Linked DNA regions of Homo sapiens. Each later gene encodes a partner of the first gene's protein in a complex. Each region holds a gene or a part of one and is shown in the gene's direction. Other genes may lie near its edges.

Region 1 (5,285 bases):
AAAGCAAAGCACTGAGACATTGGTGTAGAAATGGAGGTGATGCCTACCCCCACCATGGAATCACGCTTCAATTTAAAAGTTGTTAAACATGTTGACACAGTTTTTTTTTTGTTTTTGATATAATCCTGATTTTCCTTGGTGAATAAAAGAGAGGTATTAGAAACAGTTTATCAAATTCTTAAAAAGATTTTCTTGAATATTGGCTTTGTACAAAAGTCTGTGCTATTTTCTGTGAGGTATCTGAAACTCAATAAAACAAAGGTCCTGCCTTCTGAAAGCACTCACTCTAATAGGAGCTAACCCCACACACACACACACATGTCAAAAGCCATAACTTTTATTCTCTACTCCTTATTCTTCTCAGGTCTGATCATTTTGTATAAAGCAAATTGGCTGCTTCTCCAAAATTGAGTTTTATAAGTGGGGAAGTCCAGAGTTCTGCCAACTGTAGTTTTAGAAGCCTCAGATTTATGCAAATGAGTATGATTTTATATTTTTTATTTTAAATCAGATTTCAGTAACTCCCTGCCAGCTTATTTTTGCTTTTTGAAGAACCTTATGGGAGGAAAGCCACAATTCTCTATAGTTCCTCTTTAGCTGATGAGAAAAATGAAAGCGTGTAAGAAAGATAGATGCGCTTAAATGTTTCCTAGAAAGTATAAGTCACCTTCAATAGAAATTTGTAGATAGGATATCTTCATTTATATTTGTATATAGTTGAAATTCAAGCTGATAATGTAGCTTTTCCTGAGCCCTTTTTATGCATTGGTACTTGGAGAGAGATTTGTTAATTCCCAGAGGGAATCTTAAATCATTTTGTTGTTATAGGGAGATTTCCACCCGAACTCTAGGCTACTAGAAACAGCAGTACTTGAATGTTCTTAATAGGCTCATAGTTGCAAGAAAGCAACAGCTAAGAATGTATTTTATTGCATGCTTAATAACAGCTCCTTATTTGTATGGTTCTGTTACAATGTGGTAGGAGACAAGACGAACAGTAATCCTTACGATGTTTATTCTGTGAGTTAAAATAGCATCTTGGAAGCACAAAAATCAATCTTAGGACACTTAGTCAATAAAAGGGATATATTGCTCTCTCTCTCTCCATTACAACATTTCTGTAAATAGGAATGTATCCAAAACACAAAGCAAAGGGCTCTTATCAGTGTGATGTTGATGCCCATGCAGAGCATAGGAATTAGCAGTCTGACTGAATATGCGCCACAGGACTTCCACCATCTTCTCCTGCTCTGCCACTGTAGGCCCCTTCTGCTGCCTGCCATACTTGTCCATTTCCTTTGTTTAAAGCAGGGCAAACCTATAGGAGTAGCAGTGTATGTAGTAGTATAATTTTATTTGATTTTGAGTTTTTAAAAAATTGTATAGAATGAAAAACACAACCTTAAGCAAAACCTTTTTCTGTTTGTTGATTTATCAGAACAAGAAATTGGATTCTCAGGATTTATAGTTAAAGAAGGGAGCAAACCCATTTTAATCATGCATATTTTTCAGGATGATCCGTTGGTGCTGAATGAGATCAGAGAAGACCTTCGAGTAGAGTGTTCGAAGTTTGGACAAATTAGGAAACTCCTTCTCTTTGATGTAAGTTCATGGCTTGGACATATGGATCCTAAAGCAATAATTCCTCCACCTTATAAGTTCTTCTCAGATGTTAGTATACCCCTGAATTTTAGATTAATGTTTTTATATAGTAGTCCACTATCTTGTGATAATCATCTATTAGCAATAATGAGATGAACGTGGATTACAAGCCAAGGATTTGATAGATTTGGTATGCCTTGCTTATTTTCCGTCTTCATTACCCTAGAGTACATGATCAGGTGAAAGAAGGTACAGGAAAAATGTATGAGATCTCTGGTTCCCTATTAGTCACATTTTCCCCTCTTTGTGAATTATTCTCATCCTCCATATTTGGAACAATCAGGGACAATATTCTCCTGTATATTTCCTCTTCTCATCCTCTTTTTACTTCCAGAATTGACACCCAATAATTAAGAGTCACCATTTATTGCTTGTGTATTACAAGCTACTTTACATGTTATCTCACTTCTCAAAACCCTTTGAGGCAGGTTAGCACTATTACACCCATTTTACAGATGAGGAAGCTAACACTTTAGAAATTGAACACCTGGCTCAAGGTTGTTCATTTGGTAACTGACAGAGCCAGGATTTAATCCCAGGGCAATATGACTTCAGAGTTTACACTCTTAACAATTATACTGTCCTGCTTCTCATTAGACAGGGATGTCAGCAGAAACATTTCCAAGGACATTGTGCTTGGTTCTTGCTAGGTAAGATTGAGGTAAAGAAGCAGCTGACTGCACGTGACTGGCTGGGATAAAATGGAAGAAAGACTTCATACATAAAGTCTTTTACTTCAGAGTATCAGAGAGAACACTACTACTTACCTACTTTGTGAAATGTATGTGTTTTATTTTTAATCTTATCATTCATTCCTTTTTTTTCTTTCTTATCTTTCTAGAGGCACCCAGATGGTGTGGCCTCTGTGTCCTTTCGGGATCCAGAGGAAGCTGATTATTGTATTCAGACTCTCGATGGAAGATGGTTTGGTGGCCGTCAAATCACTGCCCAGGCATGGGATGGGACTACAGATTATCAGGTAAATTTTGCTGCTTGTCAAGGGCACACACATTGTTTCATTACCAACAAATACTGATCCTTCAGATCTAAATTTTGGGTTTGGTTTAACCTATTTAATGTAACAATGCTTCTTTTATTTTTATTTACTTATATATTTTAATTTTTTACTCTTCCTCTTAATTATTTACAGTGCTGCTTTTAAATAATATTTTGCATTCAGAAGATAGAGAAATGTTTGAGTCTTTCAGTTTCTAAGTCTGAAAGTTTGAGGCTTGTTCAGAATAGTGATAAGAAAAGAACACATTCAACCAAATGTTACTCTTCCTTTGTATGCTGTAAAGTATAGACAGAGCTCAAATATTAACTTTTTAAGAGATGAGACATTTCTGCAGTACTGTGATATTTGGCCTTTATTTAAGTGGTCTTATTTAAGGTCAACTCTAGTAAATCAAGATGTAAAGTTTTGAAAACTGAAGATGGAATTGCTTTCATTTCCTAATAAGAGATGCTTTATAAAATTAAGGTTGTTTCATCAATATTAGATATGTTCAGAGAAGTAACCTTTTGCCTGAAACTTATTTTAATGGCAGTCTCCATTTATCCACAGGTGGAGGAAACCTCAAGAGAAAGGGAGGAAAGGCTGAGAGGATGGGAGGCTTTCCTCAATGCTCCTGAGGCCAACAGAGGCCTTAGGCGTTCAGATTCTGTCTCTGCTTCCGAAAGGGCAGGGCCTTCTAGAGCAAGGCATTTTTCAGAGCACCCCAGCACATCTAAAATGAATGCTCAAGAAACTGCAACTGGAATGGCGTTTGAAGAACCTATAGATGAGAAGAAGTTTGAAAAGACAGAAGATGGGGGAGAATTTGAAGAAGGTGCTTCTGAAAACAATGCTAAGGAAAGTAGCCCCGAAAAAGAGGCTGAAGAAGGCTGCCCTGAAAAAGAATCTGAAGAGGGCTGCCCCAAAAGAGGGTTTGAAGGCAGCTGCTCCCAAAAAGAGTCTGAAGAAGGCAATCCCGTAAGAGGATCTGAAGAGGATAGTCCTAAAAAAGAGTCTAAAAAGAAGACACTCAAAAATGATTGTGAAGAGAATGGCCTTGCAAAGGAATCTGAAGATGACCTCAACAAGGAGTCTGAAGAGGAGGTTGGCCCCACAAAAGAGTCCGAAGAAGATGACTCAGAGAAAGAGTCTGATGAAGACTGCTCTGAAAAACAGTCTGAAGATGGCTCCGAAAGAGAATTTGAAGAAAATGGTCTCGAGAAAGATTTGGACGAGGAAGGTTCTGAAAAGGAGCTTCATGAAAATGTTCTTGACAAAGAGTTAGAAGAAAATGACTCTGAAAACTCCGAATTTGAAGATGACGGCTCTGAAAAAGTGTTAGATGAGGAAGGCTCTGAGAGAGAGTTTGACGAAGATTCAGATGAAAAGGAAGAAGAGGAGGATACATATGAAAAAGTATTTGATGATGAGTCTGATGAGAAAGAGGATGAAGAATATGCAGATGAAAAGGGGCTTGAAGCTGCTGATAAAAAGGCGGAAGAAGGTGATGCAGATGAAAAGCTGTTTGAAGAGTCAGATGACAAGGAAGATGAAGATGCAGATGGAAAGGAAGTTGAAGATGCTGACGAAAAGTTGTTCGAAGATGATGATTCCAATGAGAAGTTGTTTGATGAGGAGGAAGATTCCAGTGAGAAGTTGTTTGACGATTCTGATGAGAGGGGGACTTTGGGTGGTTTTGGGAGTGTTGAAGAAGGGCCCCTATCCACTGGCAGCAGCTTTATTCTCAGTAGCGATGATGATGACGATGATATTTAATCCCTTAAACTTGCTTTTTAGGGAGAGTCCTCCATCTACATTTGCCTGTGCTTCAGGGTAATTACTAGTAGTGTTACATGAACATGTGCATAGTGGTAGGATGCCATCAGATTAAAGCATTGAAGTGTTTCATTGTTACCTGTACCTAATGGTTTTAAATATATGTTAATTGATTGTTTAGTTAAAATGTCATAGTTACAATGCAAGTAAACTGGATACTTGTTCTTTTGTCAGATTTGTTAAATGCATGCAGAATAATATTTTTAAGAGTATTGATTGAAGTTTGTGATATTCATCAATAAAAATGAGTTGATAATATGCAGAAACTGAAAATTGGACTTGAGTTAAATTGCATTTTAAATTCTTGATATTGCTTTATTTATACTGAAGGTTGGCTTTTCTGAGGACTTGAAGAATCTCTTTGGAGTCTCCTTGCTTCCCGCTGGTATTAGCACGTATGTCTCCATTTCCTCTCTATAAACCAGAACATGTTCCTAAACTCAGAAAACAACCCTCTGGATTTTTTTTTTCTGCCCAGTCCTTGCAAATTAACTCTTGTTTGTTTTCTACCCTCTTTCCATTAAAATTGACTCTCAGATGTGCAAAAGTGAACTTCCTGCAGTCTACAGCTCCCATTATTATTAAAAATCTAAAGAAACAGATTAGAATTCTACCTTGTACTGTTAGCGTCTCTGGGCCCCTTTAGAAGTTAATTCAAATTAGAGGACCTCTTCCCAGAAAAAAATGTACACACTACACTACACAACTTGTGTACTGTTTGGGGAGGTTCATGGATTCCCTGAAGTTGAAGAACTTCATGCATGCTTCAGTTGTTCGTTTTTTTAGAATC
Region 2 (7,030 bases), on another chromosome or scaffold:
TTTTTTGTTTGGATCGTCCTGTCTGTATTTTTCAAGGGCTTTTTGTTTTAATTCAGCTTGTCATTCAGCTTCCTGTTCTGGGTTTGTGGTGCAGTGGCTTCCCCCGATAATGAAGGAGGGTGTCAGCGATCTCTTACTGGGATACCCATCAGTCTCTTTGTTCTCGGATGCGTGTGTTTCTCTTTAAGAACAAAGCGGCCGGCAGCTCTGTGTGAGCGCCACTTCTCATCCAGGGAGGTCAACTGCCCAGTGGCCTGGCAAGGAGCGGGCCTTTTCTTTGAGGTGTGGGGACCCTGAATGTCAGTATTTGAGAACTCTTCCTCTGGCGCTGTTTCCCCGGAAAAGACTCCTGGCCTCCCCCGGGGTGGGGGGCGTCCGTGCTGGGCCGCCTGCCACCTGAGCTGTGCGGAGGAACCGCCAGACTTCCCGCTGCCCAGGCGGCAGGTCGTGATTCAGTCCCCCCTTTTCAGCCTGACCCTGGACCCCCTTGCTCTGCTGGGCCTGTCTCTCTAACTCTAGAGGCCCTTTTATACCAGTTCTTCTGGGAATAAAGTTCTGATCTCCTCGAGGGTTGTGGGCGATCCGAGCGTGGGACCTTCCCCGGGGTGCCGCCCCATTTCAGCTGCTGAGGAGGGACAGTGTGGGTGTTCGGTGGCTGCGATGGCTTGGGTTCGGATGGTTTCTGGTTTTCGGATCAGAGCTTTACTTGGTGAGTGGTTGAGTATTGGTCTGGGTTTAGGTTTCAGTGGGCCAGACTCCACAGGTGCTCCCTGTGACAGCTGGAGCTTGTGTCCTGAGCCAGCCACTGGCCGCTGGGGCGTTCTGTCTGGCCAGTTTTAAGAAGTAACTTGGCTTGCCCTAGATGGATTTGAACTCTTGGCTTTGTTAGCATTTTGCCATCTAAGTTCCTTCTCCAAGTCCTCCCAGCCATCGTGTCATTAGAACGTTCTGGAAATGTCACTAAAATGTGCCCGGAAATAAGTGCATCAAGATAGATTGGTGGCTCTTGGTGTGGCCATCTGCACCTGTCCTGGCCCCAGAAGCTGTGCTGCCTCTTCCGCATGGAGGAGCAAAGCGCAGGTCGCTCCTGAGGCTGAGCTCCGCTCCTCCTGGGCCCTGGGTCCTCCGCAGACACGTCCCACCCACTGCTCTTCTCTCTGCCAGAAGCTGCCGGCCATGAGGACGCATGGGTGGGCGCTGTGGAGAGTGCAGGCTTGGGGGTAGAGACCAGTGATGGCTCTGCAGAGCTTAGCCTCAGAGTAGGGGCGTGGTCCAGGAGAGGCCACGACAGGGACAAGCAGGGCGTTCGCATGCTGTTGAATTCCTTCATGACGAAAGGAGCAGGTCGTCCTCCCGGGAGAGGGGAGCGCTTGATGACGCCCCGAGATCTGTGTGTGGGAGTGCCTCTCAGCACCAGGCCCCTCCTGGGTTCTTGGAGTGCATCCGTGAAAGAAGGCCGATTCCCTGCCTTCTCACACGTTCCCCCGAGCGAGGGCTTGGTTCGGTGCTGAGATGCGTGGAGGACTGTGGTTTCTGTGATGTGTGGAGAGGCAAGTGCGGCTGCGGCCTGGTGGGAGGCTGCTTGCTGGGCTCCCCACGCACGTCCCCTGATGTGAGTTTCATGTCACTTGACCAGGAAATGCTTGAATGTCCTCCAGAGAAAAATGAGGCACTTCATGAACCTGTCCGGGCGGCACCCACACAATCCTGCCCGCCTGTGGGCCGTCCGGAGACAGAACCTCCCAGGCAGCTGTAAGCTGTTGTGGCAGCAGGGACTGTAGGAGTTGGCGTGGCCTGCAGCTGACGGCGCCAGCATGGAGAGGGTGCAGTTCTCCCTGGTCCTGAAGAATGTGTGGCCAAGAAGCCCGAGGCGGGGAGGGTTCCTTGGGGCCAGAGGGTGGCGTTCCCAGCAAAGGACAGTCCTTCTGGTGTCACAGTCTCCTTTTTCACACTGGAATGTTCTTTGTTTTGTGAAGGGATGGCGATGGTCACAGTGGTGGTTTCTCGAAGTTTACGTGACAACATGTAAAAATGGGCATCTCTAGGTGGGCTTTTGTGACATCTGAACTTCTGATGGGGCAGCCGTGATACTGCAGTGAGCTGGGAGGTCCACCTCACCAGTTACCATGCTTGATCATTTTCATAAACTTGCCCAGGGAATAAAAACTGGTTGGGGAGGGCTCCTGGGCCCCCATAGAGTAAGGGGTGACTTCAGGCCCCACCACAAGTCAGCAGTACAGCTGGCCTGTCCCTCAGCATGCCCCTGCACACCTGCGGCCACTGTGGCCTGTCCCTCAGCGTGCCCCTGCACACCTGCCGCCACTGTGGCCTGTCCCTCAGCGTGCCCCTGCACACCTGCGGCCACTGTGCCCTGTCCCTCAGCGTGCCCCTGCACACCTGCAGACACTGTGACACATCACTGCAGACGCAGTAGTTCAGATGACACGGCTGTATCAGCTTCTGGTTCTGGGGTCAGAGTCCAAACAGTCCACAGGGCTCCATTCCTTCTGGAGGCTCTGGGGGACAACTCGTTTCCTGCCTTTCCCAGTGTCCAGAGGCACCTGTGTGCCTTGCCTCGGGGCCCCTTCCTCCCCATTCACAGCCACAGCGCAGCCTCTCTGACTCTCAGCCTCCCGCCTCCTCTCATGAGGTCACCCAGGATCACCTGCCATTTTAAGATCCTCAAGCCCACCTGCACATCCCTTTTCTGCCATGAGGGGACATGTTCACAGGTCCCAGGGATTAGGATGTGGACATCTTTTGGGGGCAGTGATTCACTCAGTCTCATGGGCCCCATCTCTCTGAGCTCACCCAAGACCCTTAAACCAGGGCCCGGGGCCAACATTGAGCAGGCAAGGGAAAGACTACCAGGAGATGAGAGGAGGCTGCCTGGAACTCAGATTTGCACAGAGCCTGAAAGGGCGTGGGAGACCTTGGCAGAGGCCTGCATCAGGAAGAGGATGTTGGGGACTCAGCAGAGCCCCCTGCGCCACAAGCAGATGTGGCAGATCTCCCAGGTGTTACTCAGTGAGGATGCGAAGATCAGTGTCCTCACTGATCTCCGCCTAACAAATTTACATCGAGCCCAAGAGATTAGGTTGGGACAAGTAAGCGTAGCCAACCAGAGAGGGAATTCAGAGGAAGGCGTGAACACTAGGGGCTTGGGCAGTCCGGGATGGCTTCCTGGAGGTGGTGACTCGTTTGTGAGATCTTGGTCTTGTCTTCCCTTTATGCCTTCTCTGGGCTCCCTATTACAATTTCAGGTCTCCAGGCCTTGGCACCCTGGGCTGGAGCGGCTTCCTCTCCATCCCTCATGCCTGGTCACTTGGAGACAGGCTCCAGCTTCCTTGTGTCTGTGCCTGTCCACAGTGGGCCTCAGCCTCCTGGAAGAGACTGGGTGCGCTATGGGGTGGCCCCCTCAGGGCTGGTTAGACCCTGGCGCTGGGAGTGCAGGGTGAGGGGCAGTCTCGAGGGCTCCAGCCCAGCCCGCCCAGGGAGGTCCCAGCAGCAGCCCCGAGTTCTGAGCCATCTTCCTCACTCTCCTCTTGGCCTCCACAGGTGTCTCCCAGTCTGCTAAAGCCCTAAGGCCATCACCATGGACTTCCAGCATCGCCCCGGGGGCAAGACCGGGAGCGGGGGCGTGGCCTCCTCCTCCGAGAGCAACCGTGACCGCAGGGAGCGCCTCCGGCAGCTGGCCCTGGAGACCATCGACATCAACAAGGTGGGCCAGCCACCGTGCAGCTGCCTGTGGTGGGTGCTGGGCTTTCCAGGGCAGCCCTGGAGAGGGTGCCAGAGGCTCTTCTTGGGCCTCCGCCCAGGCTGGGCGATGCAGCCCCGTGTCCAGACGCTCCCCTGTTGCCCCCGAGCAGCCACAGCTCCCATCTGTCCACCCCAGAGAGCAGACCCTCTGTGGCTCTGAGTCCCATGTGGACATGTTTTGTTCTGTCCACAGCCTTCTGTTTTGCATTATTTAATTTTCTGGGAGTGGGGAGAGCTGATGTCAGTCCAGCCAGATGTGGTGAAGGGCAGCCTTTGATTTTAGCTTGTGCAGAGGCAGGGGTGAGCCGAGTCCCCTCAGCACCGTGGACATCGGGGCTGGAGCACTCTTTGTGTACCCTGACATGCCCCACGGGCCTGGCCTATGGCAAGGGCTCTGTTACCGTCCCCGTCTTCCAGATGAGGTCATGGGTAGAGGGGGTGCCACAGCCGCAGATGGTGGAGTTAGACTTTGAACTCCAGCGTCTGAGACGAGATGTGTGCGCCCGGCTGCCCCAGCTTAGGGCCTGCAGATGGGCGGGTCTTTGGGTCTTCAGTGTAGCCCATTTGCTTTTCTTGTGCCTGTGTCTGCCTTGTGCCTACTGCTGGCGTGGTGGCGTGGGCAGTGGACGGCTCCCTGCCTCGGGAGTGACCGGCGGTGCTGTCCTGGCTGTGCCTCCCTCTGACTCAGAACCACCAGGAAGGTGGTGTCGGGGGCTCCCTGGGAACCCCCACTGCTCGAAGCCTGGCCCACAGCCCCAGGTGGTGACACCCGTGCTCACGAAGGCCTCCCGCTGGATCCCCCGTTTTCAGAAATGCTTGACCACTGTCAGCGGTAGCCATGCCTCTACAGAAGGGGGGTTCTGCCTCCATGCCTCTACAGAAAGGGGATCCCGCCTCTGAGGGCCTTGACGGCAGCAGGCCGCGATCTTCTGTCTAACGGGCCCCTGTTCTTCCCCTCCAGGACCCGTACTTCATGAAGAACCACCTGGGCTCCTATGAATGCAAACTCTGCCTGACACTTCACAACAATGAGGTGCGGCCTCTGCCTGGCTCCGGGCGGCTCGCGGCGGGCTGAGTGGCTGACGTCAGGGGGACCTGCCTGTGTCTGTCCGCCCGGCCTCGAGTCATGCGTGTTTCCTTTCCACTCCAGGGGAGCTACCTGGCACATACGCAGGGGAAGAAGCACCAGACCAACCTGTGAGTACCTCATGTCCCTTTGATGCCTGGTGCTCCAGCAGCCGTTGGCTCAAGTCTCTGTGAGCCTCGCGGGCCACTGCTCCACAGCCGGGGAGCCAGCCTGGCCTGAGCCTCCCTGGGCGCTTGAGTACGGTTCCTGGGGAGCATTAGAGAACAGAGGCATGGATGGCTGAGGCGGGCAGATCACTTGAGGTCAGGAGTTCGAGACCAGCCTGGCCAACATTGTGAAACTCCATCTCTACTAAAAATACAAAAATTAGGCCAGGCATGGTGGCACACGTCTGTAATCACAGCTACTATGGAGGCTGAGGCAGGAGAATCTTGAATCTGGGAGGCAGAGATTGCAGTGAACCAAGGTGCTGCCACTGTACTCCATCCTGGGCGACAGAGTGAGACTCTTGTCTTATTAAAAAAAAAAAAAAAGAGCAGAGGCATGGAGTTGTTGGAAGGGCCCCAGCCAGGGACAGTGAGGAGCATGACAGGAAGAGAACATGCCTGTCCTATCCCTGTCCTCAGCCAAACCCCAGGGCCCCTCCCAGGCCCCTGGCCCTCCTCATCTCTCAGCTTGTAGTGAGCTCCAAGGTCAGGGGGCTCCTGGCACCTGGGCCCATGGCTTTGGTGCCTGTGTGTGGAGGGGTCCCAGCAGCACCTCCATCCTGTCCGCAGGGCCCGGCGAGCAGCCAAGGAGGCCAAGGAGGCCCCTGCCCAGCCCGCGCCTGAGAAGGTCAAGGTGGAGGTGAAGAAGTTTGTGAAGATCGGCCGCCCGGGCTACAAAGGTGAGTCTGCCCGCAGCGGGGCCGGCCACAGCCGCTGCCGTGACATAAGTGTGTTCTTTAGTCTCCAGTGCGGGAGGTGCAGCCCTGATAGCCTCCTCCCTGAGCCACTGTTTTCCGGCCTTGGTGGCCGTCCCTCACCCACCTGCAGCCTCTGGCGTTGTGTCTGGGAGCTGTCAGGCTGGGCCCGATAAGCACCCATCTCACCCAGCAGCCCATTTCCCAGCTGAGCCACAGTCTGTGCCCTCCTGTCCGGGTCTTGTGGAAGCTTCTGGGAATTCTTGCCAAGCAAAAGAGTGGAAGTGGAGGTGTGGTGAGCCCTGGCACATCCCTCCGGTTAACCTTGAAGCCTTTGAAGGAGGACAGGGAGAAGCGGCTGTTAGAGGCAGCTCCTCCCGGACCCTCAGCAGTGGGAATGGCTAGAGGTGACCCCGGTTCAGAAAGCTGGGGAAGTGACCAGGGTGGAAGATAGAGACTTGTGTCCATAGGGTTCAGGAAGGCGGGCACGCTACCCAGCAAGTGTTCTTTACAGAAGGCGGGGACAGCCTGTGTGCCTGGCCTCCAGACAGAAGCCTGCAGGGCAGAGGTCCCGGGGCAGGTGCACCGGGTGGGCGAGGGTGGCTAGAGCGGCAGGCTCCTGGTGGGGAGGCCCTGACAGGTCCTGGGCTTGGGCTCAGGACGGTGAGGCGGCAGAGGGCTTGTGAGTGTGCGTGTCTGAGGCCGCATGGAGAGTGGCCGGGCGGCAGGCAGCCCAGCAGCCATTCTCGGGGTCCAGGCTGCTGAGCTCTGGCGGGAAGGGCATCCTCTCTCGCTCACCGTATACATGGTGTCAGCCCTGTTCAGGCGGCCCCGCTCGAATCCCAGAGCCAGGGTGCCGAGGGCCCCTCCCTACCCAGTGGCCCCAACTCCTGCTGGGTGGTATCCCAGCACCCCTGGTGAAGGGCTCTGGGGATTGGGACAAAGGAGCACCATCCTCGGTCCCTGCCTGAGTGACTCCGCAGGTAGCTCAGCTCTGGCGCACCTGTGCCTTCACCTATACCAGAATCCCAGAGCCTGGGCGGAGATTGTCTAATGGTTGCCAGAGCTGCAGGGCCTCCCCCGGGGTCCCGCTCTCGTTCAGTGGGTGGCATTAGCCTGCCCCAGGTTCCTCAGCTTCGGAGAGGACAAGCAGCCGGGACCTGAGAGCTTTCTGTGTTGCAGTGACCAAGCAGAGAGACTCGGAGATGGGCCAGCAGAGCCTCCTCTTCCAGGTGAGATCAGGGACTTGGGCGTGGGGGGCGGCCAAAGGCACCCAAGAGGCG

The links. Proteins that work in one complex are often made in the same cells at the same time.
Region 2: HTATSF1 (region 1) and SF3A2 share a complex: the UniProt entries of both Homo sapiens proteins name them as parts of the 17S U2 SnRNP complex.

Annotation. Positions count from the first base shown.
Region 1 is NC_000023.11:136,507,579-136,512,863, forward strand, and holds the end of HTATSF1 (17S U2 SnRNP complex component HTATSF1), read left to right. Parts: intron 1-1,512; coding exon 1,513-1,602; intron 1,603-2,503; coding exon 2,504-2,641; intron 2,642-3,229; coding exon 3,230-4,435; 3' UTR 4,436-4,768; downstream 4,769-5,285. UniProt on the Homo sapiens protein: Component of the 17S U2 SnRNP complex of the spliceosome, a large ribonucleoprotein complex that removes introns from transcribed pre-mRNAs.
Region 2 is NC_000019.10:2,239,824-2,246,853, forward strand, and holds part of SF3A2 (splicing factor 3A subunit 2), read left to right. Parts: intron 1-3,558; 5' UTR 3,559-3,595; coding exon 3,596-3,721; intron 3,722-4,720; coding exon 4,721-4,792; intron 4,793-4,909; coding exon 4,910-4,956; intron 4,957-5,622; coding exon 5,623-5,732; intron 5,733-6,929; coding exon 6,930-6,979; intron 6,980-7,030. UniProt on the Homo sapiens protein: Component of the 17S U2 SnRNP complex of the spliceosome, a large ribonucleoprotein complex that removes introns from transcribed pre-mRNAs.